Homo sapiens: one gene and its partners. Changing the gene in region 4 together with the main gene of any one other region gives a genetic interaction. Each region holds a gene or a part of one and is shown on either strand. Other genes may lie near its edges.

Region 1 (3,500 bases), on a different chromosome or scaffold from region 4:
AAAGAAAAGAAAAGACACAGTTTGCCATGTTGTTAGTTTACCCTGATGATTTCAGAATGTGATTCCCTTCTGAGCTGCCACTGCCACAGTGCCTGGACATGTGGCATCCTTTATCAGCTAGAGGCTGGTAAATGTTTAACCTCTTGGCCAGCCCTTTTCTGCCACTAGTCTATCTTTAGGCAGAACTTCAGAGAATCAAGCCAATTTTAATATCAAGCCAGAATTTTTAAATAAGATGAATAGTATGGTTTAGCATTCAAAATAATTTACTAATGATTCCAGCCTGTCTTGTACTGGCTGTGACTCTCCTGTTTTTGTGGCATAGATAATCAAGAAGTGTGTTAAAAACGCTAATGGGTTCAAGATAATAATGATGTAATCTCTTCCTTTCTTGAAGAAAGAAGACGGATAAAATCATTATTACCTAAACTATCTTGTGGAGTTAAAAACAGAATGCACATTCGAAGGAAACGAATTGTGGGAGGAAAGCGAGCACAACTGGTAAAGTCGCATGAAAAGTCACAATGCAACTGCCCAGAAACAGCCTAAATTTGGGGGGAAAGGGGCAGGAGGATGATGTAATTATAAGAGACTGGGAGTCTTGCCATGGAAATATCTTAGGGCTGTTTGTATCGCTATCTGTTAGAATGGCAGTGACCACACAAATGTCTTTTACAGGGAGACCTCCCATGGCAGGTGGCAATTAAGGATGCCAGTGGAATCACCTGTGGGGGAATTTATATTGGTGGCTGTTGGATTCTGACTGCTGCACATTGTCTCAGGTAAAAGATGTCTTCAGTAAATTTTAGATTTCCCGAAACAATGAAAGTGAGTAATAGAGATTGTGGCAGATGATAAAGCATATCTGAAAAAGGTACTGACAAACTCCACTATATTAATTGCAAAGTATCCTCTGGTATTCGCGACTGGAATTCCAGAGGCTAATCCCGTAGAATCTACTGTGTCCTCCACAGACCAAAATTGCTGATCTCACTGGCAAAGGCAGATCAAACCCATAGCTGCCAAATTACTTCACCTGGCTTATTTGCAAAGTGGGAGAGTGGGTAGGTACTACTTACATTTTGTTCTCCACTGTGGCCTACCTATATTTTCTTTACTGTGTGGCTCAAGAGTCATGTTGCCATACCTAGTTTTGATTACTTGTCACCTAAAATGCAATGACTTTGCATTCCTCTTAGGATAAGAATTGAAACAAAAATTTTAACATGGCCCATGAGGCCCCATGTAATCTGACCTCTGCTAACCTTTGCCAATCTCATCTTGCCCCACAGAGCCACCTCCTGCTCCCTGTTCCACCACCTCTACTCTGGATTGCTTTCTGCTACTCAAGTGCATTTGCCCCCTCCTGCAAAGGGACCTTCATATATTGTTTCCCCTGCCAGAAATGATCTTCCTTACCCTTTTCCCTACTTAGTCGTACCCTTTGTTCAGATCTCAGCTCAATCTTCACTTCCTTAGGGAACCTTCCCTGACTCCCTTAAGTCAAAGCCCTCTTGATAAGTTCTTAAAAGCCCACATACTGTTCATTCCTCTCACTTTTCATGGTAGAACATATTATTTTCATCAGTGTGATGATCCATTTACTGCTGCATCTTTCCCTAGATCGTGAACTCCATGAAAGCAGGAACTGTTTCTGATTTTGCTCATTTCTGCATCTCAGTGCCTAACACAGTGCCTGGTACATATAGGTTCACACTAAGTATTTGTTGAATAAATTGACTAAATAAATAATATTTACAACCTGTGATCCTGAAAAACAATCAAAATTAATATGAAGGACAGTATTCTTGGAACACTATAAACAAAAGCTTCCTGAACATCTCATTATTTCCTAGGACACCACCTTTTAAGGTGGTTACCTGAATCACCCTTATGTAAAGATAAATTCTGTTCAGTTAATGCTGTTTGAGAAAGCAGAAGTTATATAGATCAGGGATACTCTACCCCTGAGCTGCAGACAAGTACTGATCTGTGGCCTGTTAGGAACTGAGGTGAGTGGTGGGCGAGCATTACCACCTGAGCTCCACCTCCTGTCAGATCAGCAGCAGCATTAGATTCTCATAGGAGTGCAAACCCTATTGTGAATTGCACATGTGAAGGATCTAGGCTGTGCAATCCTTATGAGAATCTAATGCCTGGTGATCTGAAGTGAAAGCGTTTCATCCGGAAATCATCCCCTCCTCCCCCGAGTTTTCCACAGTTCCATGGAAAAATTGTCTTCCACAAAACCTGTCCCTGGTGCCAAAAAGGTTGAGGAACACTGATATAAATAATACATTTTTTGAAAAGATTTCCATTAAATTGTTTAAAAATAAGTTTTATTGCTTAAGAAAAATCCATTCTGTAAAATAATTTATTGTTTGGAAATGTTAGACTATGAGGTCATAATTTAGCACCCTACTTCTAATCAAACCAAAAAAACTAAGCTATAATACTTTGCCGAAGTGACTCTATACTGTTCCATGAGAAGATGATGGTAGATGCCTGATTTGCTTGAAACTATGAGTTGAAAATTGATAAGAGGCCAGGTGCGGTGGCTCACGCCTATAATCCCAGCACTTTGGTAGGTTTGAGACCAGCCTGGGGAACATAGCAAGACCCCATTTCTACAAAAAAATTTTTTTAAATTAGCTTAATGTGGTGGCACATGCCTGTAGTTCTAGTTACTAGGGAGGCTGAGGTGGGAGTGTCTCCTGAGCTCAGGAGTCAAGGCTGCAGTGAGCTATGTTCACACCACTGTACTCCAGCTTAGGCAAAAGAGTGAGACCCTGTCTCTGTTTTAAAAAGAAAGAAGGGAAGAAAGAAACTTGATATGAAAATGTAGTGAAGCATAAGAATAGGCAATATTTAGCTCATTCACCATTTCAACAGGATTTTAAAACAGCTACTATGATCCAGATATAATAGTAGGCACCAGGGCTGCACAGATGAATCAGACCCCATCTCTGGCTTCAAGCAGCACAGTCTAGTGTGAGGAAAGGCATGTGAACAAATAAATACAATGCAATGTTAGGATAAAGTTAGTCTTAAGGGTCAGGATAATGACTGCTGTGGCCTTTGCCCTGGGAACCTCTAGGGTTGGCAGAGTAATGAGTGTGTGTGGTCCAACTCCCTAGTTCCTTAACTACATTTATGGCAAGATGCTGTCTGGTCTCTGCTTAAACACCTGCAGCGACGGCACACTCACTCCAGAGGCAGCAAACTCATTCCACTTTTGGGCATCTCTAGTTGTTAATGTGTTCTTTATGTTCCTCATATTGAGCAGTTACATGGATTATTCCTAGCTTTATCATTTACCATTGACCTAATTCTGCACTAAGTAAATTTAATCTCATTGCTTCATGACAGCAAGCATTTACAAAATTCTGGGGAAATGAAAAAGGTTTTTAAAAGGGAAAAATATAAAAGTGAAGTGTCAGAATTCCTATTTATATTTTTTCTCAATATATTTTATTTCCTTTTTTTTTCTGTTATAGAGC
Region 2 (4,017 bases), on a different chromosome or scaffold from region 4:
ATCACAGGTACCTGCCTTTTTGCTGCTTTAGCCTCATCTGGGCTTTCTGTGGTTTCTTCTCTAGGGTGGCCAACTTGGGTGTCTTCCTCTGCCAGGGTCAAGGACAAGGTCAGTGATATTATGCTCCCTTCACCCAGTTATGCCCAGTTACATTGACCTGGTACCCTGGATAACTGGTGTGAGTCAAGCTGGTCCAGTGCTCCTGCCACCTCCAGTAAACTCTGATTCTAGATTCACTCCCTGCTGCAACACTCACTGTGTGTGGAACCTTGGGCATGCAGCCAGGCCTCCCTGAGACTGTTTCTCAACTTGAAAGTGTGATGGGAACCACACCTACCTCACTGGGCCTCGTGAGGACTCAGTTATATGTAGCCGTCACCATTGTTCTCATCATCATCTCTCTCAGGAAGAGCCAGGCACAAGCACTCTCAAATTTTTCTCCTTTGAAGCTCCTCATTACCCTGTGAGGCTCATCATCCCTACATTTTTTAGATAAGAAAACAGAGGCCCAAAGAGGGCAGTGACTTGCCCAGGGCTCTACAGAAGAGGCCGGCTCCTCCCCACACCTGGAGGCCCTGACCTAGCTGACTTTACCCCACAGCCCAGCACTATCCCTGACTAGGGTCCCATCTTGGTTCTCCATGCTTGTTTAGGTCCTCAGGCAGGCTCAGCTTTGGTGGGAAAGAGACAGGGTGTTTTGGGAGGCCTGGGCGAGTGGCACCTCTAACCAATCTGCTAGGCCCTCACCTCTCAGTCTCACTGAGACACTCCATTAATTGGAAGCAGACCCAAAATTGCTTCACAGACTGAAGGTGATAATTGTCTACAGCCAGCTGAAGCAGCTGCATCTCCTGGAGGACTTTGATCTCCTGCAGCTAAAGGGAAAGACAGGATGCTGAGACAGGGCCTGCAGCATACACATAACTATAATTCAGAATGTAATATATACACACACACGAAAATATAATCAGAAAGTGATATAATCTTATATGCAAGGTTAAATACAAATGTCTCTCAGGCAGGGCCAGGCCCCCAGCACAGGGAGGACTCGCCTGAAAACGCTGCAGGCAAAAACCTGTCACCCTTGCCTCATTCAGCCCAGTGTCTGATTACATCTTCTGTCACTTAGGATTGAAACGGGTGGGGCCTGGAGCCCTAGCCAATCAGTGGCGCCAGCGTGAAACTGTCCAATCAAGTGCGCAGCTACAGAGGAAGAGGCGGCCTCTTCAATATGGCGGGGCCTTTGTCTCCTAGCTTCCGGGCTCTGATCCTAGTTCGCGTCTCCACTGTTCCATCTCCTCCGTTCCTGGAGTTCCTCGGTGACTCTACTATAGCTTCTGTTATCCTGTGACCTGCAGGTACTGGGAGATCCATAGGGAGGACGGCGGAACATCTGGAGGCTGGGAAATGGTGAGTGCGTGGAGTGGGTGTCCCGAGAATGGGGAAGAGGCTGTTTGAATCCGGCCGGAACCGGCTGCGGTGGTATCTGGGCCTTCTCGCGGTCTGCTCTGGAGTCTGCATCCCCGAGTCCCCGCGGGCACAGCTCAATCCTCATTTCCCTCCATCGCAGATTAGGGGCTGAGCCAGCAGCCAAAACGCTACGTCTTGTTTTGTCCCTAAACTCGAATTTCTCCCCAGCTCAGATCCCTTCCTGGGCAGCTCTGTGCCGCAACCTCGAGTCTCCCTCCTCCAGATTGTGTGGGGGTGTTGGGAGTGTCATAAGACGGGAATTCTCATTTAGGGTCTGGAGTTCCTCCGTGGAAGAAGCAGTGGGCCGTGGGGTCCCTAGTCCCTCCTTTCTCCTTTTAAAAATAAAATCATGGCCCTTTTTTAAATTTATTTATTTTTGAGACAGTGTCTCACTCTGTTGCCCAGGCTAAAGTGCATTTCGGTTCACTGCAGCCTCCACCTACTGGGCTCAGATGATCCTCTCACCCCAGCCCCCCAAGTAGCTAGGACTAGAGGGGTGCGCCACCACGCCTATTTTGTTTTGTTTGTTTTTGTAGAGACAGGCTTTTGCCATGTTGCTCAGGCTGGTCTCGAACTCCCCGAGCTCAGGTCTCAGGTGATCCGCCCGCCTCGGGCCTCCTAAAGTGCCGGGATTACGTGCATGACCCACCACCCTAGCCTAAATTGAGGCAACTTTAGGATATAATTTGGATGTGTTTTCCAGCCCAAATCTCCTATTTAAATGTAATCCCCCATGTTGGAGGTGGGGCCTGGTGGAAGGATTGTGGGCCCGGATTTCTCACGAATAGTTTAGCACCATTCCTCTTGGTATTGTCCTCTCAATAGTGAGTGAGTTCCCTGAAGTTCATCATTTAGAAGTGTACAGCACCCCACCTTGCCTCTTTTTCAAGCTCTTGCTTCACCTTCATCCATGATTTTAAGCTTTCTGGGTGGGGCCTCCCCAGAAGCAGACGCTGGTGTTATGCTTTCTATGCAGCCTGTGGAACCATGAGCCAATTAATCCTCTTATAAATTACCCAGTCTGAGGTATTTATAGTAATGCCAGAAGCGATTAATACAAATAGTTTACTTGCACAAACAGTAATTTATCAATCAGAGAACACCCAGCTATGATTTGTTGTTTGGGGGCTCAAAGGAGGGTCTTGGAACAAAAGGTTGTTTTTTTTTTTTAAGAGGTATGAGGAAGCAAACCAGATTCAATATTTGATTGGTTACAGTTACGTATTGCATTTGCAGCCCTCCGGTGGAAATGTCCTGGTTATGTAATTAGAGCTTTTTATTGGCAGCTTGTGGTTGGTTAAGCCTAAGTTGTTTTGTTGTTGTTGTTGTTGTTTCTCAAAGTTAATAATTTACCAGAAATTCCTTCGACGTAGTTAGGTTTCCTTAGGCAGAATCCCAGGGCACCATGGCCACTTCAGCCTAATTGCTAGCTATTTAATTATTTTAATGCTCCACAGGGTCGTTGGTTTTCTCTGCATTTTTCAAATGTTTGGCAAGCAGGGTCTCAAATCTAAAACTGTTCTCCCAGCCTAACTGTTCTAGGGACTGTATAAAATTCTAAATTTCCAATTTCTTTCCCACATTCCCAAATGCCAACTATCCCTCTCCAAATCACATTATGAACTATCAGTTCTTTATTTAATTTTAAAACGGATGTGGCATTTTGTTTATTTTTGTTTAACAGAGCCGTGGGTGGCTCTTTTTAATATATTAGTCTGTTTGTGCATATTTCACAGGACAGAAAAGCAAAGAGTAGTCACCTGACACTGCGCATCTCCTCTCATCTTCTCTAGGCACGCGCGCCTTCCCAGAATGTCTTTGGATCCTTTGCAGGGTGATGTGTCCTCAGTCACTCTCCTGTGTTTTCCTGGTCCAAGTATTACAGCTTTCTGGGGATGATCCAAGATACCCACAAGGACCATATCTCTTGGAGTGTCTAGCAAACATTAGCCCCTGGGTCATCTCCTTTCAGAGAAGAGCCTGAGGCATTGGGTGGAGCCTCTCAGGGGAGCAGCTGGATGCCCTCGTGCTGAGAGCAGTTTCCTGATTCACCCTTCCTCTAAAAAGCTAACTGCTTTAACATTAAGATTTTTTTCCCCTCAATCCTAGTTTTCATTTCTTGCAGACACATTGGTGGTCAACCAATCAGGTGCTGATATTGAGGGGAAAAGGCACAAATGCATCTTGCCCTCTGGTTTCTCTCAGGCTTGTGAAGGAGAATAACTGTCCCAAAGTACAGGAAAGATCCACTCTAGTGAGGGAGTGTATAAATTTGCAAAGCAAAATACACATCTGCCACACAGGGGGCAAGTGCAGTATCTTTTGGGAGAGTGATGATCAAGTACTTTAGTGAGCAGAATGGGGGTGGGAGAATCTCTCAAGTGATTGACACATGAGTCTAAAACATTTGTGTTCCAGTCAGCACTACTTCTCCCTGTGTTTGTCACCTTCAATATATATGTTCAGTTATTTCAACTTCAGTTTTTCATTAATTGTATAATGGATTTTATCATTAGAGCTTGAAAGATTAAAAAAAAAATTTTCTAA
Region 3 (4,000 bases), on a different chromosome or scaffold from region 4:
GGAGAGGGGACTGAGTGGTCTTGGAGGCAGTGCCAAGTCTCCGCAGAGGCAGATGGGCCCACCTCATCCAGGGCCATGGAAATGGTGGGTCATGGAGAACCCCAGGAGCTGAGGGCCCAAGGGGTTCACCTGCTCACAGGCCTGGTGATGGGGAGCTCACCACCTTCCAGACCAGCCTCTCACCCACTGATGGCTCTGACTCTGGAGAGACCCCTGTGGGTCCCAGAGTTGGCCTCTCCACCAAGGGGCGCCTTCCTCTGACAGCCTTGCGGCCTGGGACTGTCCCGCACCCACCCCTGAGAGCACCTTCTGGCCTGGTCACTAGACCCCAAAGTCCAGTCTCCTCTGGGATCTGCCCGATGAGGCCAAAAGGAACCTCGGCCTCCCGGTCTCCAAAATGGAGGCGGAACCATGGTCTCTTGTGGACACACAGACGCATCAGAAAAGCCAGTGCTCCCCTAAGACACCTCCTGTTGGGGGAACACAAACATTTTCCTAACCGAAAACGGCAAACCCATCCGCTGCAGAGCAGCGCCAGCCCCCTTTGCTCACCCCCCACCTCCCTAGGCCTGACTGCCATGGGCTGCCTCCGCCTCCACAAAACCAGCCCTACAGAGCGCTGAGTCCGCTTCTGCCCCCATCCCGCCCCTGCCCAGGCCCCTGGGATGGGTGGGCCTCCAGGTGCACCCCATTGACCTGAACCCTCCCGCCTCTGCCCGCTTCTAAACCTGTTCATTGATTGTTGATTATCGACTTACTCATTTCACAACGCACCCCTCTGATTCCCCGCCCTGCGTGTGACCGGGCCCCAGCCGGCCTCAGGGGTCCCGTTCTGCACCCCCTTTATCCGCATTTCTGCCAAAGCCCTCCACCCCCGGCTGGACTCTGCTCCTCCCAAGCCGGGCTCCTGGCCCCCACTCGGGGTTCCCCGGGAAGCGGCCCCAGCTCCCACCCCGAGGGAGGGCGCGCGCAGGTGGCTACGTGGCAGGGCGGGGGTCCCGGATCCTGGCGACCTCTCCCACCCCGGGCGCGGGCAGGGGTCCCGCGTGGGGCGGCGGTGACCTTGGCCGGGCGGCGCGCCGGCCCCGTGGGCGCGGGTCCCCGGGGCGGGGCGGGGCGGGGCGGGGCGGGGCGGAGCGCGGGGCCCGGCGGGCGGGGACGGCGCGGGCGCGACTGCGGCGGCTCGGGCGGGCGGGGGGCGGCGGCGCCAGCGGACACCGGAGCGGGCAGGAGCAGCGGCCGCGGCGCCGCAGGGACCAGCGGGCCCAGGTAGGCGGCCCGGGGCGGGGAGGGGGTCCCTGCGCAGCCCCCAGCCGGCCGTCCTCCCCGCCGCGCGTCCCTCCTTTGTCCCGGCCCCAGCCTCCCGGGCCTTGGGGCCGGGCCCTTCCCCGCGTGGCTCCGGGGCCCCTCGCCGGGCGTCCCCCGTCCCTTCCCGCCGGGCCCGGCCGGCCCCTCCGCGCTCACCTTGGACAGCTCCCGGCCGCCTCCCCTCCCCCACCCGGAGGGCGCCCCCCTGCCGAGCCCGCCCCACCGAGGCCCACCCCGCCGCCCCTCTCCGCATTGGTCCCCTCGGGCAGGGCCTCCTCCCTCCTGCAGCCGCCTTCTTCGCCCTCCGCCCCGCTGCCCAGCCAAGCCCCTCCCTCCGCGCCCCCTCCCCGGGGTGGGCTCCTCCTCTCCACCACTGAGGTCCTCCTGAGTCAAGGGTCGCCCCTGGGCTGGCCCCGCACTGTGCCTCTGCGCCCTCGGGCCCCCTAGAGCAGGCCCTTTCTCCATCAAACCCCTCACCGGCCAGGCGGCCCTGGGTCAGACCCCCGCCCCACCCTTGGTCAGGCGTGACCCCCGCTAGACCCCTGGGTCGCGGCTCTCTCTGCTTTCCTGACCCTGAGCTTTGCTTTGACACCCCCGCCCCCACCAACCACGCCGTGCCCGGCCGGGAGCCGGGCTTCAGGGACCCAGGGCTGGGGTAGATTGGCCCTGCCTGGACGTCTGGGGGTGGGCTGCCCCGCACAGGCGGGAAACCCCAGGAGTCTAGCCAAGCAGGGTGGGCTTCCAGCCCCGCTGTGCGCCTCCACCCCCCTGCTCTGTGACCTTGAGCCAGCCCCTCCTGCTCCTGCCTCGGTGCCCACGACCCCCTCCCTCCACCCGCACCCCCCAGGCGGTGGAGGTGGGAAGTGGCGTGGGCTTCGGGGCTGTTGAGTGCAAGCGCCTTTCTGGTCAGGGATTCCAGACCCAGCGGGGAGGACAGTACTGCTCATGGGGGCTGGAGCTTCAGTGCCCGCAGCAAGGCAAAGGCTGGATCTGGGTCCACAGAACCCATGGCCATTAGGACCCCAGGCCGGTCTTGGTGGCGTCTTTCTGCACAGCAGCGTGCCCGCCTCTCAGGGCGCCCACCCAGGAAAGGGCAGGGTCTGCAGCACAGGCCGCCTCCCCCCCACCACCAGCACCCCCAGCCTCCTCCGAATGCCGAGAAATTACTATGCATGTAGTCCACAAACCCGGCAGCCAATCACATGAGTTGGCATTGCCGAGGCGCCCAGAAGTTTGCCTGGCTCATCACAACTGGGGACTGTGTCAGCTGGCGCTTTCATCAGCCTCTTTTCTTTTCCTGGCAAATCTGTTACCCTTGATAATCCAGAAGGTGCCTTTGCAACCAACAGGCACAGCCAAGTGCCCTGCCCACCGGCCCCAAGCCCTTGTGACTGTGATCACAATTGTGATCGGGGTCTCCGCTGTACAGGGCACTGCCTAGGGCCTTTCTCCACCTTGTCACCTTACTTGCCCCAACAGTGGCTCGCATTTCACAGAAGAGAAAACGGAGGCTTAGGGACTTGAATTTGCCTGTTTAGGTTCAAACCACTGACCCCCGGGGAACCTCTGGACCCTCCCCATAAACACACCCCCACCCCCAGTGCAGCAGGTAGAAACTGGTTCCTCCTCCTCTCCCACTGTAGACCACCTTGCTGGGGAACACCCCTCCCCCACCCCCCACCGCTGCCCCAGAGCCTGGAAGGAGGAAGGGGAGGGGAGGACATCAATTCTGGAGATAAGCCACCCGCCCTCCCCCCAGCGTTCTTCCCCCACCTCCATCATTTCAGGATCTGCTGTGCTGTGTGACCTCCTCAGGCTGCTGGACCTCTCTGAGCCCAAGAAGGAAGAGAGGGGCTAAGAGGTGCCCCTCCCAGGAAGTGCTATTCTAAGGATCCTTCAGACCTGAACGGGAGGGGCTAGGGCACACCAGGCCATAGTTTGATTTTAGAGTTTAGGGAGTGGCGATTTTCCCGTTCAGCTTCTGGATTTTGTATTTTTGTGTCCCACCTGGGCTGCAAGACCCTTCCTCCCTGGGGCGGCTATTGGGAATCAGTGCCCTGATTTGCAAATTGTGGTTCTCAGATTCCCAGCCTCAGGATCCCATTTATGGCAGGTGAGGAGAGCAGCCCTGTAATACAAGTTCCAGCTGGATGCGGTGTCTCACACCTGGAATCCCAGCACTTTGGGAGCCCGAGGCGAGAGGAGCACCTGAGGTCAGGAGTTCAAGACCAGCCTGGCCAACATGGCGAAACCCCGTCTCTACTGAAAATACAAAAATTAGCCGGGTGTGGTGGTGCATGCCTGTAATCCCAGCTACTCTGGAGGCTGAGGCAGGAGAATTGCTTGAACCGAGGAGGCAGAGGTTGCAGTGAGCCGAGATTGCACCACTGAACTCCAACCTGGGCAACAGAGCAAGACTTGGTTTTAAAAAAAATAAGAAGGCCAGGTGCAGTGGCTCACGCCTGTAACCCCAGCACTTTGGGAGGCCGAGGTGGGTGGATCACCTGAGGTCAGGAGTTCAAGACCTGCCTGACCAACATGGAGAAACCCTGCCTCTACTAAAAATATAAAATTAGCCGGGCTTTGTGGTGCATGCCTGTAATCCTAGCTACTTGGGAGGCTGAGGCAAGAGAATAGCTTGAACCCGGGAGGTGGAGGTTGCGGCGAGCCAAGATTGTGCCATTGCACTCCA
Region 4 (4,147 bases):
TCGCAGGCTGCGGGCGACGCTGCCTCTGGCCGGCGCCCTCCGCCGCTCCAGGCCGGATGGTGCCTCCCGTGGGCATGTAGGTGGGGATGGTGGGTTTTGCCTCTGTGCGGTCACCGCCTGTCTGCGTTGCTGCCTTCTCCGGGGCCTCAGACCCTGGAGAAAGCCCCGACAGGGGAGGGGGGCGCGCAGCCGCAGGGGCGTCCAGCTATCGCGCACTGCGGGGGGAGTAGGGGCGGGCGCAGCGCTCGGCACCGCCACGCGGGTTCGGGCCGGGGAAGGCAGGGGCCGGTACGTGACGCGGGGCATGCACGTGGCCTGGGAGTGTGCTTTTCGGGACAGGTGCGGGGGCCGCCGCGCGCGCAAAGGCGCAGACGCACGCGTGCGGGCACCGGGCACCGTCGGCCGTCGGGTTATCCTTGGCTCCGCGGGCGGCCGCCGAGGTCCTGTCCACCCGGAAGGCGCGACGTCCTCGGGGGACGCCAGGGCGCAGGGGCAACTGAGCCGACTTCGCAACTCGGAAGTTTTTCTTTGGCTGTGATGGTCGATTTGCCCGTCTAAGAAATGGGACTCTGGGCCGGGCGCGGTGGCTCAAGCCTGTAATCCCAGCGCCCTGGGAGGCTGGAAGATCGCCTGAGGCCAGCAGTCTAGACCTCGACAACGTAGCAAGACCCCGTCTCAAAAAAAAAAAAAAAAAAGGGGGAGTACTCAAAAGAATAGGAAAGCGCTTTGCAAACTTGGACACGAGTTGGGCGTTTTATTCACTTTCTCTACTACCCTCCTCCCTTTGGGAGCCCCAGGGGCTGGAGTAAGCACGCTACCACCCACTATACCTCTCAGTGCCCGCGGCACAGGAGCCGCACTCGACTTTGCATCCCCCCAGGGCCTGTACACGCCGGAAAAGCTCCCGCGGGGTGCGGTCGCTGGGCCTCGTCACGTGATCCCCACTCAACGCCCCTGAGCGGGGGGGGGAGCAGCGAGCAAGTGCGCATGCGCATCCCTTCTAGCTCTTCCCCTCCACCCCCCACCCGCCCCCTTGGCTCGGACGCAACCACTGTCAGCTCCTCCCCCTCCTCCTCCTTCATCCTTCCTGACATTCACTCCCTTCCCCCAGCCAATTGGTTACGTCAGGCAGACAGGCCGAAGAACCAATCACGACGCTGTGCTCAGAAGCCGCCACGCGGAACCGGCCGGATCCGACTAATAGGGGCCCTTGGAGCGGCCACGCCTCAACCGGGCAGGGTAGCTTGGGCCCAGTGGGCGGTGCTTCTCCTGTCAGCATGTGGGCGGGGTAGGGCGGGGACCAGCAGCCGCAGAGCCGTCCTCGGCGGTGGCGACGACGACGACGTTGCTCAGTCTTGGGGTGGGCTCCGCGGTGCAGGCCGAGCTGCGCGGAGGGCTCGGCGATCAGCGGCGGCGGCGGCAGTGGGGAGGCCGCAGCGCCATGGGGGGGCGTTAGACAGGCTGCGGCGGCCGAGGCGAGGGGCGGCAGCGGTTATCTGGTCCGCGGCGACCTTCGGCCGGGCCCGGGGGTGGGAAGGCCTGGGGCGGGGGTCGTCCCTGGTTGCACGGGGCCGCGGGGCGGGGCTCGCCGGCCGTCGGGGTGCAGGAGGCCTGGGCCGCTGAAAGGAGAAGGCGCCGTCGGTCGCCAGGCCCTGCCGCCGGGCCGCTTGACGACGACGCTCCCGCGGGGGCCCCGCCTGAGGAGGACGCGGCGGCGGTGGCGGCGAGGCCGCGGGAGGCCGCGGAGGATGGAGGAGCGGAAGGAGGAGGGCGAGGCCGAGATCCAGGAGCACGGGCCCGAGCACTGGTTCTCCAAGTGGGAGCGGCAGTGCCTGGCCGAGGCCGAACAGGACGAGCAGCTGCCCCCCGAGCTGCAGGAGGAGGCGGCGGCCGCCGCGCAGCCCGAGCACAAGCAGCAGAAGCTGTGGCACCTCTTCCAGAACTCGGCCACCGCCGTGGCCCAGCTCTACAAAGGTGAGGCCGCCGCCGCCATCTTGGTACCGCTTGGCCGCCCCCGCCCGGGCCCGGCCCCGGCCCTATCGGCTCAGCGGCCGCTTCGGGGGGCCGCGACGGCGGCGGCCTCGGGGATCCCGGCCGGTGGCTCCGCGGCCCTGCCGCCCCCTCCCCGCAAGATGGCGCCGCGGGAGGGAGGCCCGGGGTTGGGGGGACAGGCCAGAGCCGGCGTGGGGGTAGCCCCGCTTTGGGGTGGTCCGAGGGTCCCCGCTCTCCGGGCCCGGCCACCCGGTGTCCCCCTCGGCCCGGAGACGGGAGAGGAGGAGCCCCCGTCACAAAATGGCGAAGGGAGACGGCGGGGCGGCCCCATTGTGCCCTGAGCCGGCCTCGGGGCGGGGACTGCCAGGGGGGGCGCTTCCCTGCGCCGCGGCTCGTCCCTGATCTGTGCCCCTGAGCTCTGCGGCATCCCCTTTTCCCCGCCGCGACCTCCCTGCCCCCCCGGTCCTCACACTGGGTTTGGGATCCCGAAACCCCTGAACAAAATGGCGAAACCTAATATGGCCGTTCCGGAGTGATTGACGCGCAAATAACATTCTTGTTCTCTTTCTTTCTCTTTCTATGTGTGTTTCTTTTTTCTTTTTGGTTTTTTTTTTTTTTGGCTTGCTTTTCAGACCGAGTGTGTCAGCAGCCAGGACTTTCTCTCTGGGTCCCCTTCCAAAACGCAGCCACCGCCGTCACCAATCTCTACAAAGGTAAAGATAACCTTGCTGCATTGCCGATTCAGGGAAGGGCCGCCTGCGTCAGGGTGTCTGCCCTGCGTTCCAAGTGTGTTTTCTGCTCCCCAGCCCAGCTGCTAACCTTGAATACCTTGCAACTTGAGAATCGCGGCGGTGCTCTAGCTAGATCCACCGGAGGCGATTTTGACACCTCCCTCCGCCCCCCGGGACAGATGGCAACGCCTGGGGACGTTTTTGGTTGGCTTCTCCTAGAAGGGGCTGTTGTTGGGCACCCAGTGTATAGAGGCTGCTGAAGGTCCTGCAGTGCCCAAGATAACCGCCCCGGCCCCCTCTCAGCGAAGAATTATCATGCCCCTAAAGTCAGTAGTGCTCAGGTTGAGAAGCGTTGAGCTGGAAGACGGCTGAGCCTTGCCTCCCTCTGGAAAAGACATTGAGGGAAGATAAGAGTTGATGTTTTTTGTACTACAGTCGGAAGTGGGACGAACTTTATGGAAAAGATTCTTGAGTTAGGCATTTGAAAGCGTGGCAGTCTATATAGTTTTGAAGTGCTTGAAAGCTTGCTAATCGGAGTCATCTGCGCGCATGTTAACGTGCTGCTCTTCTCTAGCAATTTGATCAAGTGTTTTCTGTTAAAAGGATCCTATATTTGATTATAAGTTGCTGGCAGGAATTCTGTTGAGAGTTTTGAGTCCATAGGTTTGTTTTATGGTGGTTCCTTTCTGGAGTTAATCCCCCTCCCTTTGTGATGACATGAAGATGTGTAAGTAAACGTTCTTGCCCATTTGTGCATTCTTGGTAACGGTGGGTTTAGATTTTGTGCCTTACTGGTTTTGAAGATTGAGAAATTTGGGGTTGATTTTTTTTTTTGGCAAGATTTTTATGGAAAAAGGATTTGACTTTGTTAATCTTAAGAAATATGTAATTAAATGTTTTCAGACTTTTAAAAGTTGCTCAGAACAGTAATGGAACTTTGTGCATTTCAAAAATACCAATATTGGTATTTTTGCCATATATATTTAGGCCATATATAGGTTGAAACGGGCTATGAAGGTGCTGCTTGACTGTCAAGTTGTTAATTTTTGCATAAGAATGTGCAAATGGCCGCAGCATCTTGTAGGAAAAAATATCTCCTTGTGAGATTTCTTGAGTAGACTACAGTTTTTTGGGACAGTAATTTGAGAACTGGTAACAAAGTGGTGAAAAGAAACGCTAACTTTAGGGAATGAGGAACTGTAATAATAATAGTCCAGTCTTACTGAAAAAAGGGAAACATGGTTAAATAGTGCCTCAGTGGTTAGCTTTGATTTTATATAGCTGTTTGTTAAATTGTGACTGAGTAAATTGCTTCAACATCTATCAGTGCTGACGGTCTTGAACGTTTTGGAATGGCTCTTGGTTTTGTCCAAAAACAGAATTTTGAAATAATACTTAATTAAAAAAAAGGTTTCTGGGAGTGT
Region 5 (3,500 bases), on a different chromosome or scaffold from region 4:
TCAAAAACAAAATAGTCCTCTATACAAGGACCATCAACCAATAAGACCACCTTTTATAGTTTATATTCCTCCAGAATTTTTTCTATGCATATGACAATTTATATAATTTTTATTGTTTTTACAAAAACAGGATATGGTTTTGAAACTTGCTTGTTTCAATTAGTATATTCTGGACACCTATTATATCAACATATAACATAACATTTATTGATCCTTACTGTGTGCCTGGCACTGTGCTAAGGGCTTTACATGGATTACTTTGTTTACATACAGGTTTACCTCCTGCTTTTTTAATTGTTAATAGTACATTAATAATGTAATATTCTGTAGAACCAATGTTCCTTTATATAGCCAGACCCTATTGAAGATAATATAACAAACAACACTGGCCGGGCGCAGTGGCTCATGCCTGTAATCCCAGCACTTTGGGAGGCCAAGGCGGGCGGATCACAGGGTCAGGAGATCAAGACCATCCTGGCTAACACGGTGAAACTCCGTCTCTATTAATAATACAAAACATTAGCTGGGTGTGGTGGCAGGCGCCTGTAGTCCCAGCTACTCAGGAGGCTGAGGCAGGAGGATGGCGTGAACCTGGGAGGCGGAGCTTGCAGTGAGCCGAGATCACGGCCACTGCACTCCAGCCTGGGCAACAGAGTGAGACTGTCTCAAAAAAAAAAAAAATGAAAAAAAATAAACACTAAAACACTGTTAAACATACACACTTGTGAACAGAAGTAGAAAATTTTTAATAGAATTGCTGGCTCAAAAAATATGCACATTGTTTATTTTAATAGATGTCAAATAGCCCCTGGACAACAGTGTGTCAGTTTGTTCATCTGACAACATCTGTTAAATTCCGAACTGCTGGAATATAGGTGTCATCCAGTTTTACACTTGCAACATCTGCCTTGTCTCTTTTACCGCGGTTGTTTGGGACGGCTAGCTACTCTTGGTTTGTGTCTGCCTGAGTTCTCCTTTTGGTCCAGTTAGTTTACCATCTCTCCTCACCCTTGGCCTTTCTCCTTCATCCTTTATCAGGGGATTACAGTGACGCAATTGAGACGCTGCTCACAGCCATTGCGGTTATCAAACAGTCCCGGGTTGCCAATGATGAGCGTTGCCGTGTCCTCATCTCCTCTCTTAAGGACTGTCTTCATGGCATCGAAGCCAAGTCCTACAGTGTGGGTGCCAGTGGGAGCTCTTCCAGGTGAGTTGGTGATTGTGTCCTCACCTACCAGCCCCAAGCAGCACTCTTCCAGGGATAGGGAGTGGGGACAAATGGAGCCCAGGGAATCTGGGAAAGACCTGGCCGAAAGTCTGGACGTTAGCCTTCATGTCTTTTTGGGGAAGAAACTAATCAGATGCTTTCATTAATAAGTGTTGTAACATCTGGAATCTGGTGGGTGAGGCAGTGGGCTCATGTAGGAAAAAATACAGACAGATATTTTTAAGAACATGGGTTTTGGAGCCCTACAAGCTTGGATTGGAATCCCAGTTCTGCTGCTAACTATCTGTATGACCTTCTTGTGTATGGAAGTTAGTCAACTTTCCAAGCCTTATTTTTCTCATTTTCTAAAAAAGGGACACTGATAGTATTTATCTTACAGACCTGTTGTAAAGATTAGGTCAGATAATCCATACAAAATTATTAGCACTACACCTGATAAATTAGTTCTCAACAGATAAATTTACCTGTTAATCATCTTCCCAAAAAAGAGTAGTCCTCAAAGAGCTAAAATCCTCAGACAGCAGGCCCATGATAGAGTAATAGAGGAATAGTTTAGGCAAATATCAGAAGACACCAAAACACCACATTCTTGGAAAGAAAGTGGTAGGCCTTCTGAGTGAGGCTGAAGGATCTTTCTAATAGGAAAAGACATCGCTCCCGGGAAAGGTCACCTAGCCGGTCCCGGGAGAGCAGCAGGAGGCACCGGGATCTGCTTCATAATGAAGATCGGCATGATGATTATTTCCAAGAAAGGAACCGGGAGCATGAGAGACACCGGGATAGAGAACGGGACCGGCACCACTGAGAAAGGTGGGGAGAAGCCCCGTTCCTGGCTGCTGGGGGATTTTTTATTAAAAAAAGATTTATAGTGAAGAATTCTCTCTCTTTAAAGCAAAAGTAAATGCAGCAAGGGTAGGGGGAACTTCTGATTTACATAACTGGAATTTCAGGGCAGATTTTCTGCACATTTATGGGGAGTCTTACCCTGAGATTCAGCTGTTTCTGCTTGTTTCTTGACTGCCTTAACCTGGTATCTGAGTGAGAGTATGGTGTCTGCATTCAGGTACCAATTTGAATCCCAGTTTCTCCACTAATAATTGGCCATATTACTTTCTGTTCCACAGTTTCATTTGTAAATGAAGATAATAAAAGCAACTGTCCCAGTGACTTGCTAAGTTTTAGTGAGAGAGTCCATGTAGACCATTTAGCACTCATGGTACCTGTCACATAGTAAGTTCTCAATAATTAATAGCCATTGTTATTATCATTATGAACTTTCAATTTAAATTAGGAAAATTGACTAAGAATAGTAAAGCCATTGCCACTTAGTTTTCAAGCTGCAACATTAATGATTTTAAGAATTAGGCTTGGCATGATGGCTCACACCTATGATCCCAGCACTTTGGGAGGCCAAGATGGGAGGATTGTTTGAGCCAGGAGTTCGAGACCAGCCTGGGCAACATAGGGAGACCCTGTCTCTACAAAAAATACAAAAATTAGCCAAGTGTGGTGGTCCCAGCTACTTAGGAGGTGGAGGTGGGAGGGTTGCTTGAGCCTAGGAGGTCGAGGCTGCAGTGATCTGTGATTGCACCACTGCACTCTGGCCTGAGCGACAGTGAGACCTTGTCTGAAAAAAGGTAGGGAGGAGGGGCGGGTGGGTGCCTCATGCCTGTAATCCCATCACTTCAGTAATTTGGGAGGCAGAGGCTAGAGGATCACTTAAGCAGGAGTTTGAGACCAGCCTGAGCAACATAGTGAAACCCTATCTTTTTTTTTTTGAGACAGAGCCTCACTTTGCCGCCCACGCTGGAGTATAGTGGCATGATCTCAGCTCACTGCAACCCCCACTTCCCGGGTTCAAGCTATTCTGCCTCAGCCTCCCCAGCAGCTGGGGCTACAGGCGCGCGTCACCACGCCCGCTAATTTTTCTGTTTTTAGTAGAGGCGGGGCTTTACCATACTGGCCAGGTTGGCCTTGAACTCCTGACTTCGTGATCAGCCCACCTTGGCCTCCCAAAGTGCTAGGATTACAGGCGTGAGCCACCATGCCTGGCCGAGACCCCATCTCTTTAAAAAAAAAAAAACGGTTTATTTAAAAGATTTTGAAAATTAATATGCTTTAGTCAGAGAGGAGAAAGCTGATCTGAAAAATTATCTTTAACAGGTTTAGAGGCTTTGTGGTGGATAATTAACTTCAACGGAAGGGTTTTTTGCTTTTGGAAAAGACTTAGTGACAAGGTTGTTTATTTTGTTGTTGTGTTTTTTGTTTTGTT
Region 6 (3,500 bases), on a different chromosome or scaffold from region 4:
TCTTGCCTTCTGCTAGCTTTTGAATGTGTTTGCTCTTGCTTCTCTAGTTCTTTTCATTGTGATGTTAGGGTGTCAATTTTAGATATTTCCTGCTTTCTCTTGTGGGCATTTAGTGCTATAAATTTCCCTCTACATACTGCTTTAAATGTGTCCCAGAAATTCTGGTATGTTGTGTCTTTGTTCTCATTGGTTTCAAAGAATATCTTTATTTCTGCCTTCATTTTGTTATGTACCCAGTAGTCATTCAGGAGCAGGTTATTCAGTTTCCATGTAGTTGAGTGGTTTTGAGTGAGTTTCTTAATCCTGAGTTCTAGTTTGATTGCACTGTGGTCTGAGAGACAGTTTGTTATAATTTCTATTCTTTTACATTTGCTGAGGAGTGCTTTACTTCCAACTATGTGGTCAATTTTGGAATAAGTGTGATGTGGTGCTGAGAAGAATGTATATTCTGTTGATTTGGGGTGGAGAGTTCTGTAGATGTCTATTAGGTCCTCTTGGTGAAGAGCTGAGTTCAATTCCTGGATATCCTAAGAACAAGGAATATTTATCTCCTGAAGAAACATAGCGAATGTAACACAATCCACATAATTTTATAATATTTTGATAGAGTTGTGATGAATTATCAGTCACATCCATAATGTAAATGGGCTTAACTCATCCATTAATGTTACCCATCCTAATGATTGTGAGGTAATATCTCATTGTAGTGTTGATTTATATTTCCCTAATAATTGGTGATAATGAACATCTTTTCATGGACTTATTGGCCATGTATATCTTCTTGGAAAAAAATCTCTATTCAAGTCCCTTGCTAATTTTTAGATAGAGTTATTTGTTGTTGGGTTTTAGGAGTTTTTAAAATACATTCTCAATATTAATCTCTATCAGATATGTAATTTCCAAATTACTTGGCCTTAAAAAGAGAGAAAATTCTGACACATGCTAAGACAGGGATGAACCTTGAAGACATTATGCTAAGTGAAATAAACCAATCACAGAAGGACAAATACCGTGTGATTCCACTTATATGAGGCACCTGACTAGTCAAATTCATAGAAACAGAAAGTAGAATGGTGGCTGCCAGAGCCTGGAGGGAGGCAGAAAGGGGAGTTATTCCTTAATGGTACAGAGTTTCAATTTGGGGTGATAGAAATAATTCTGGAGACACATGGTGGTGATGGTTAGACAGCATTATGAATATGTTTAACATCATGGAACTGTACAGTTAAAAATGGTTACCATGGCAAATTATGTTGTGGGTATTTTAGCACAATTTTAAAAATTGAAGAAAAAAGCAAATGAATAAAAATAAAAGTTTAAATGGTAAACTAAAAAATAAAGAATGGACAAAATATATCTTATTATTTAATATGAAAGCAGAGAGATAGTGGTCCTTATGGCAGAGAAAGAAATATCCAATCCTCAAAACATTAACATGACAAAGAAAGTATCTTTTCGATGCTAAAAGTTGGAATTCACAACGAAGATATAATATTCATAAAAATCTATGCACCAAATAACACAGGAATCACACTCATAAAGCAAAAACTACAGAAAATGCAAGGAGACACAGAAAAATATTTATAATAGAGAATTTTTACACTATTCTTAACAAAAGACAGGTTGAATAGGTGTAAAATGTAAGAGGAGACTTAAACAACATAATCAAAAGGTTGTTGTTATTAACACACACCAGATTCCAGTTAAATCTTGACACTGGAGAATACACCTGTTTCTCAAGTGCTTATGGAACATTCACAAAAATTGAATATATTTATGAAACCATGAGCAAATTTTGTAAAGTAAAACTATTACAAACAGTACTTTCTGATCACAGGGCAATAAAACTAGAAATTATTATGAAAAACAAAGACAAAATGCCCTGTTACCTGGGAATTGGAAAACTTTTGGTTAAAAGGGAAATACAAGCTAAAATGATAAATTTCTGGAAAATAATAATGAAAACACTATACATGAGAATCTGTGAAATACATTTAAAGAAACACAGCACTAAACACTTATTGGTAAAAGGAAAAAAATAAAAGAATTACTGAGGTCTAAAACTAGAAAAAGAGCAAGAAAGTGAACTATAAGAGAAAATAAAGAAGGTAATATTAGTGACAAAGGCAGAAATTAATGAGGTAAAGAAGAAAATACATCCTGGCTAACACGGTGAAACCCCGTCTCTACTAAAAATACAAAAAATTAGCTGGGCATGTTGGCGGATGCCTGTAGTCCCAGCTGCTCTGGAGGCTGAGGCGGGAGAATGGCGTGAACCCGGGAGGCGGAGCTTGCAGTGAGCCGAGATAGCGCCACTGCACTCCTGCCTGGGCGACACAGCGAGACTGTCTTAAAAAAAAAAAAAAAAAAAAAAAAGAAGAGAATACAATGGAGCTAATTAGTATATCAAAACACTGGATTTTGTCTTAAAATTTATATGGAATGAAAAAAGAGCTTGCATAGCCAAAGCAAGACTAAGCAAGAAGAACAAATCTGGAGGCATCACATTATCTGACTTTAAACTATACTATAAGGCTATAGTCACCCAAACAGAATGGTACTAGTATAAAAATAGGCACATAGACCAAAAGAACAGAATAGAGAACCCAGAAATAAAGCCAAGTCCTTACAGCCAACTGATCTTCAACAAAGCAAACAAAAAACATAAAGTGGAGAAAGGACACCCTATTCAACAAATGGTGCTGGTATAATTGACAAGCCACATGTAGAAGAATGAAACTGGATCCTTGTCTCTCAGCTTATACAAAAATCAACTCAAGATGGATAAAGGACTTAAATTTAAGACCTGAAACCATACCAATTCTAGAAGATAACATTGGAAAAAAACCTTCTAGACATTTGCTTAGGCAAAGACTTCATGAGCAAGAACCCAAATGCAAATACAACAAAAACAAAGATAGATGGGACTTAATGAAATGAAAAAGCTTCTGCACAGCAAGAGAAATAATCAGCAGAGTGAACAGACAATCCACAGAGTGGGAGAAAATCTTCACAATCTATACATTTGATAAAGGACTAATATCCAGAATCTACAATGAAAAAATCAGCAAGAAAAAACAAACAATCCCATCAAAAAGTGGGCTGAGGACATGAATAGACAATTCTCAAAAGAATATATACAAATGGCCAACGAACAGTTGAAAAAATGCTGAACATCACTAATGATCAGGGAAATACAAATCAAAACCACAATGCTATACCACCTCACTCCTGCAAGAGTGGCCATAATCAAAAAATCAAAAAATAATAGATGGTGATGTGGATGTGGTAAAAAGGGAATGCTTCTCCACTGCTGGTGGGAATGTAAAGTGGTACAACCACTATGGAAAACAGTGTGGAGATTCCTTAAAGAACTAAAAGTAGAACTACCATGTGATCCAGCAATCCTACTACTGCATATCTACCCAGAGGAAAAGAAGTTATTATATGAAAAAGACACTTGCACATACATGCTTATCACAGCACAATTTGCAATTGCA
Region 7 (3,500 bases), on a different chromosome or scaffold from region 4:
CCTAAAGTGCTGGGATTACAGACATGAGCCACTGTTCCCGGCCTAGAATACTCTTTTCTGCTTTCTTTTCTTTTCTTTTTTTTTTTTTTCCAGATGGAGTTTTGCTCTTGTTGCCTGGGCTGGAGTGCAGTGGCGTCAGCTCACTGCAACCTCCGCATCCTGGGTTCAAGTGATTCTCCTGTCTCAGCCTCTCAAGTAGCTGGGATTACAGGTACCCGCCACCATGCCCAGCTAATTTTTGTGTGTGTGTGTGTGTGTGTATTTTTAGTAGAGACGGGGTTTCACTATTTTGGCCGGGCTGGTCTTGAACTCCTGACCTCAGGCAATCCACCCGCCTTGGCCTTCCAAACTGCGGGAATACAGGCGTGAGCCACCGTGCTTGGCCCGCTGCTTTCTTCATTTAACCAAATTCTCCTTATCTGCAAGACTTCACTCAAGCCCCCCTTCTCTGTGAATCCAGGCTGGGGTATCTTTTCCTCCTCTGTGTTCTTTATGCCCATTCTGCCATCATAGCACAGATTACACTGTATTGTCAGTATCTACTGTCGGTTCTGTCTACCCCACTCAACTGAACTCCTAATGGCTGGGACCATATCTTACTCACATTGTCCACAGTGTCTAACAGTTCATGGTACACAGTAGGTGCTGACTGAAGGGATGTGTAAATGCATATACCTACTGTTGGTGTTTCAGGCAGGGATGTTCAGAGAACACAGGTGTTCTAACTGGTGGAATCCTGGAGCAGGAAAACCAGCTACGGAATGATCTGGGATTTCAGGACATCTGCTTGGTCAGGATTTGTGTATAGACTTCCTGGCAATGAGTCAGCTTTGCAGAGGTAATGACACCACTAAGGAAATTAGTGAACCTCATTAATAGAGGAGTACTTGGCCCATCATCAAGTATTACCTCTAATTAAACTACCCCATTTGGAGCTGTCACTGGAGGAGGGATATGGAGGGAATTGAATCAGAAACCACACAAGAGTGGTCTGTGGGGAGAATGGAAAACCCAAGGTTAAGAGAGGTCCATGCACATTTATTTTTCTTGCAGATTATATGTGAGGAAACAGGAAATACTTTAGAAAACTATTCTTGAGGTGTGACAGATCAGAGTTTATCCACCCCCAGATGTAGTATCCCTTTCTTACCTATCCAGTAAGGGAGGCCACATGCTAATTAATGACAGTGCTGTTGACCAAACCAATTCTTAGACATACAAGAAAACCGGCCTTGATCCATTACCATCACACTGTGGCTATTTCTGAAAACCCAAGCACCTTCTGAGAAAGATTTGCCTCCGTGGATACTCCTCAGGAGGCCATTCTCAAGGTGTTTTTCCAGGCACATTTTGTCTGGTGGTAGCATGTGACCTCCTGTGGGGACCTCTGTGAAGGGCATCTATGCATGTTCACAATGGCTGGCTTGCTGATGAGTCAGATGTGAGTTTGTTTTCCTCTTGTCACCTACGTCTGCATGTAGCATATATGCTAATCCGACTTCAGTGAGGCTGTTTGACTGGCTAGGGTTTTCTCACTCTCAGTTGTTAAGGACAATCTGGCCCCTTTCCTAAGTTTAAGAATCTCCTCTGCCTTGGCTGGGTGCGGTGGCTCATTCCTGTAATCCCAGCACTTTGGGAGGCCAAGGTGGGTGGATCATGAGGTCAGGAGATCAAGACCATCCTGGCTATCACGGTGAAACCCGGTCTCTACTAAAAATACAAAAACAAAAAAATTAGCCGGGCATGGTGATGGGCACCCATAGTCCCAGCTACTCGGGAGGCTGAGGCGGGAGAATGGCGTGAACCCGGAAGGCGGAGCTTGCAGTGAGCTGAGATTGCGCCACTGCACTCCAGCCTGGGCGACAGAGCAAGACTCCGTCTCAAAAAAAAAAAAAAAAAAAAAGAATCTCCTCTCTAACTCTAGTCTCAGTGCTCCTCTCTCTCTCCATCACTTCTTCCCTGCTGTATCCTACTCTAGTCACCTGGATTTCTCTCCTTAAATTCTGCCACGGAGTTGCCTGCACCTGACTTTTGCACATTATTCCTCCTTAACTAGAGTGCTTTTCCCCCTTTCTTTGCCTGGCAAGCTCTTACCCAGTGGTTTTCAACTAGGGACAGTTTTTCCCTCTGGAGAACATTTGGCAGTGTGTGGAGACATCTTTGACATGATGTGGATGGGGTGTGGGGAGTTGGGATGGGGAGGGAGTTAAAATGGCATCTAGTAAGTAGAAGCCAGGATGCTGCTAAACATCCCACAGTACACAGGACATTCCCTCCCCCCACTCCGCCAAAGAGTTATCTGATCCAAATGTGAATAGTGCTGCAGTTGAGAATCTCTGCTCTTATCCATCCTTCCAGATGTCATTTTAAGGCATTGCTTCTTTCAGGGAACTTCCCATTCCCAGAGAAGTTCAGTTTTCCCCACCTGTACAATTTTTGAATATGTTTCATCCTTTTCACTGTAGCACTCACTACCTGGTGGGCTCCTTGAGAGGAGAGAGTAACTCTCACACATCTCTGGTTCCCCAGGTTACAGCAGGTGCTCAGGAAGATCTGGATGGGGCAGGCTTCGCTCCCCAGAGACCATCAGCCCTCAGGGTTTACTAGGAAGGGAACACAGGAAGAAGAGTGCATTGGTTCATCCCCTCTTAGGGATCCCAGGATTAACATCCTAACTCAAAGTTTTGTGTTCTGTGATTAGGCTGATCAAGAAATGCTATAAATGACTTGAGGCACATGGGAGGATGAAGGCTTTAGACTTTGCAGGATTGAGAAAGTCTTTAATTTTTTTTTTTTTTTTTTTTAAGTTTTTTGAGACAGTTTCACTCTGTCACCCAGGCTGGAGTGCAGTGCCGTCATCTCAGCTCACTGCAAGCTCCGCCTCCCAGGTTCATGCCATTCTCCCGCCTCAGCCTCCCGAGTAGCTGGGACTACAGGTGCCAGCCACCATGCCCGGCTAATTTTTTGTGTTTTTAGTAGAGACTGGGTTTCACCGCGTTAGCCAGGATGGTCTTGATATCCTGACCTCGTGATCCACCCGCCTCAGCCTCCCAAAGTGCTGGGATTACAGGCGTGAGCCTACCATGCCTGGCCAATTTTTTGTATTTTTTAGTAGAGATGGGGCTTTGTCATGTTGCCCAGGCTGACCTAGAACTCCTGGCTTCCAATGATCCACCTGCCTTGGCCTCCCAAAGTGCTGGGATTATAGGCATGAGCTACTGCGCCTAGCTGCGAAAGCCTTTAGTACCAGGTTAGAGTAACCATTTTTCTCCCTTTTAGAGTCTCTTCTCCTTCAAGTCCGTGGTTCTGGTGGAGCCCGACTGAGCACTAAGGATCCTCTGCCCACCATCGCCTCCAGAGAGGAGATTGAAGCTACTAAGAATCATGTTCTAGAGACCTTCTACCCCATATCACCCATCATCGATCTTCATGAATGCAATATTTATGATGTGAAAAATGACACAGGTAAGGATCAATGTCTTGGACTTTTAGGCAGTGTG

What was found.
Region 1: changes in HAPSTR1 (region 4) and CFI together harm fitness less than expected from each alone (positive genetic interaction), as found in Homo sapiens cells (one large-scale study listed by BioGRID).
Region 2: changes in HAPSTR1 (region 4) and ZNF736 together harm fitness more than expected from each alone (negative genetic interaction), as found in Homo sapiens cells (one large-scale study listed by BioGRID).
Region 3: changes in HAPSTR1 (region 4) and DIRAS1 together harm fitness less than expected from each alone (positive genetic interaction), as found in Homo sapiens cells (one large-scale study listed by BioGRID).
Region 5: changes in HAPSTR1 (region 4) and CPSF7 together harm fitness less than expected from each alone (positive genetic interaction), as found in Homo sapiens cells (one large-scale study listed by BioGRID).
Region 6: changes in HAPSTR1 (region 4) and SPACA7 together harm fitness less than expected from each alone (positive genetic interaction), as found in Homo sapiens cells (one large-scale study listed by BioGRID).
Region 7: changes in HAPSTR1 (region 4) and MRPL37 together harm fitness more than expected from each alone (negative genetic interaction), as found in Homo sapiens cells (one large-scale study listed by BioGRID).

The regions. Positions count from the first base shown.
Region 1 is NC_000004.12:109,746,500-109,749,999, reverse strand, and holds part of CFI (complement factor I isoform 2 preproprotein), read left to right. Parts: intron 1-397; coding exon 398-501; intron 502-678; coding exon 679-782; intron 783-3,497; coding exon 3,498-3,500. UniProt on the Homo sapiens protein: Trypsin-like serine protease that plays an essential role in regulating the immune response by controlling all complement pathways.
Region 2 is NC_000007.14:64,312,744-64,316,760, forward strand, and holds the start of ZNF736 (zinc finger protein 736), read left to right. Parts: upstream 1-1,217; 5' UTR 1,218-1,407; coding exon 1,408-1,410; intron 1,411-4,017. UniProt on the Homo sapiens protein: May be involved in transcriptional regulation.
Region 3 is NC_000019.10:2,718,573-2,722,572, reverse strand, and holds the start of DIRAS1 (GTP-binding protein Di-Ras1), read left to right. Parts: upstream 1-1,200; 5' UTR 1,201-1,269; intron 1,270-3,095; exon of another isoform or gene 3,096-4,000. UniProt on the Homo sapiens protein: Displays low GTPase activity and exists predominantly in the GTP-bound form.
Region 4 is NC_000016.10:9,090,297-9,094,443, forward strand, and holds the start of HAPSTR1 (HUWE1-associated protein modifying stress responses 1), read left to right. Parts: upstream 1-1,347; 5' UTR 1,348-1,748; coding exon 1,749-1,974; intron 1,975-2,624; coding exon 2,625-2,705; intron 2,706-4,147. UniProt on the Homo sapiens protein: Acts as a central player within a network of stress response pathways promoting cellular adaptability. The E3 ligase HUWE1 assists HAPSTR1 in controlling stress signaling and in turn, HUWE1 feeds back to promote the degradation of HAPSTR1.
Region 5 is NC_000011.10:61,409,476-61,412,975, reverse strand, and holds part of CPSF7 (cleavage and polyadenylation specificity factor subunit 7), read left to right. Parts: intron 1-1,038; coding exon 1,039-1,207; intron 1,208-1,870; coding exon 1,871-2,033; 3' UTR 2,034-2,038; exon of another isoform or gene 2,039-2,395; intron 2,396-3,500.
Region 6 is NC_000013.11:112,403,855-112,407,354, reverse strand, and holds part of SPACA7 (sperm acrosome-associated protein 7 precursor), read right to left. Parts: intron 1-3,500.
Region 7 is NC_000001.11:54,206,667-54,210,166, forward strand, and holds part of MRPL37 (large ribosomal subunit protein mL37), read left to right. Parts: intron 1-3,279; coding exon 3,280-3,465; intron 3,466-3,500.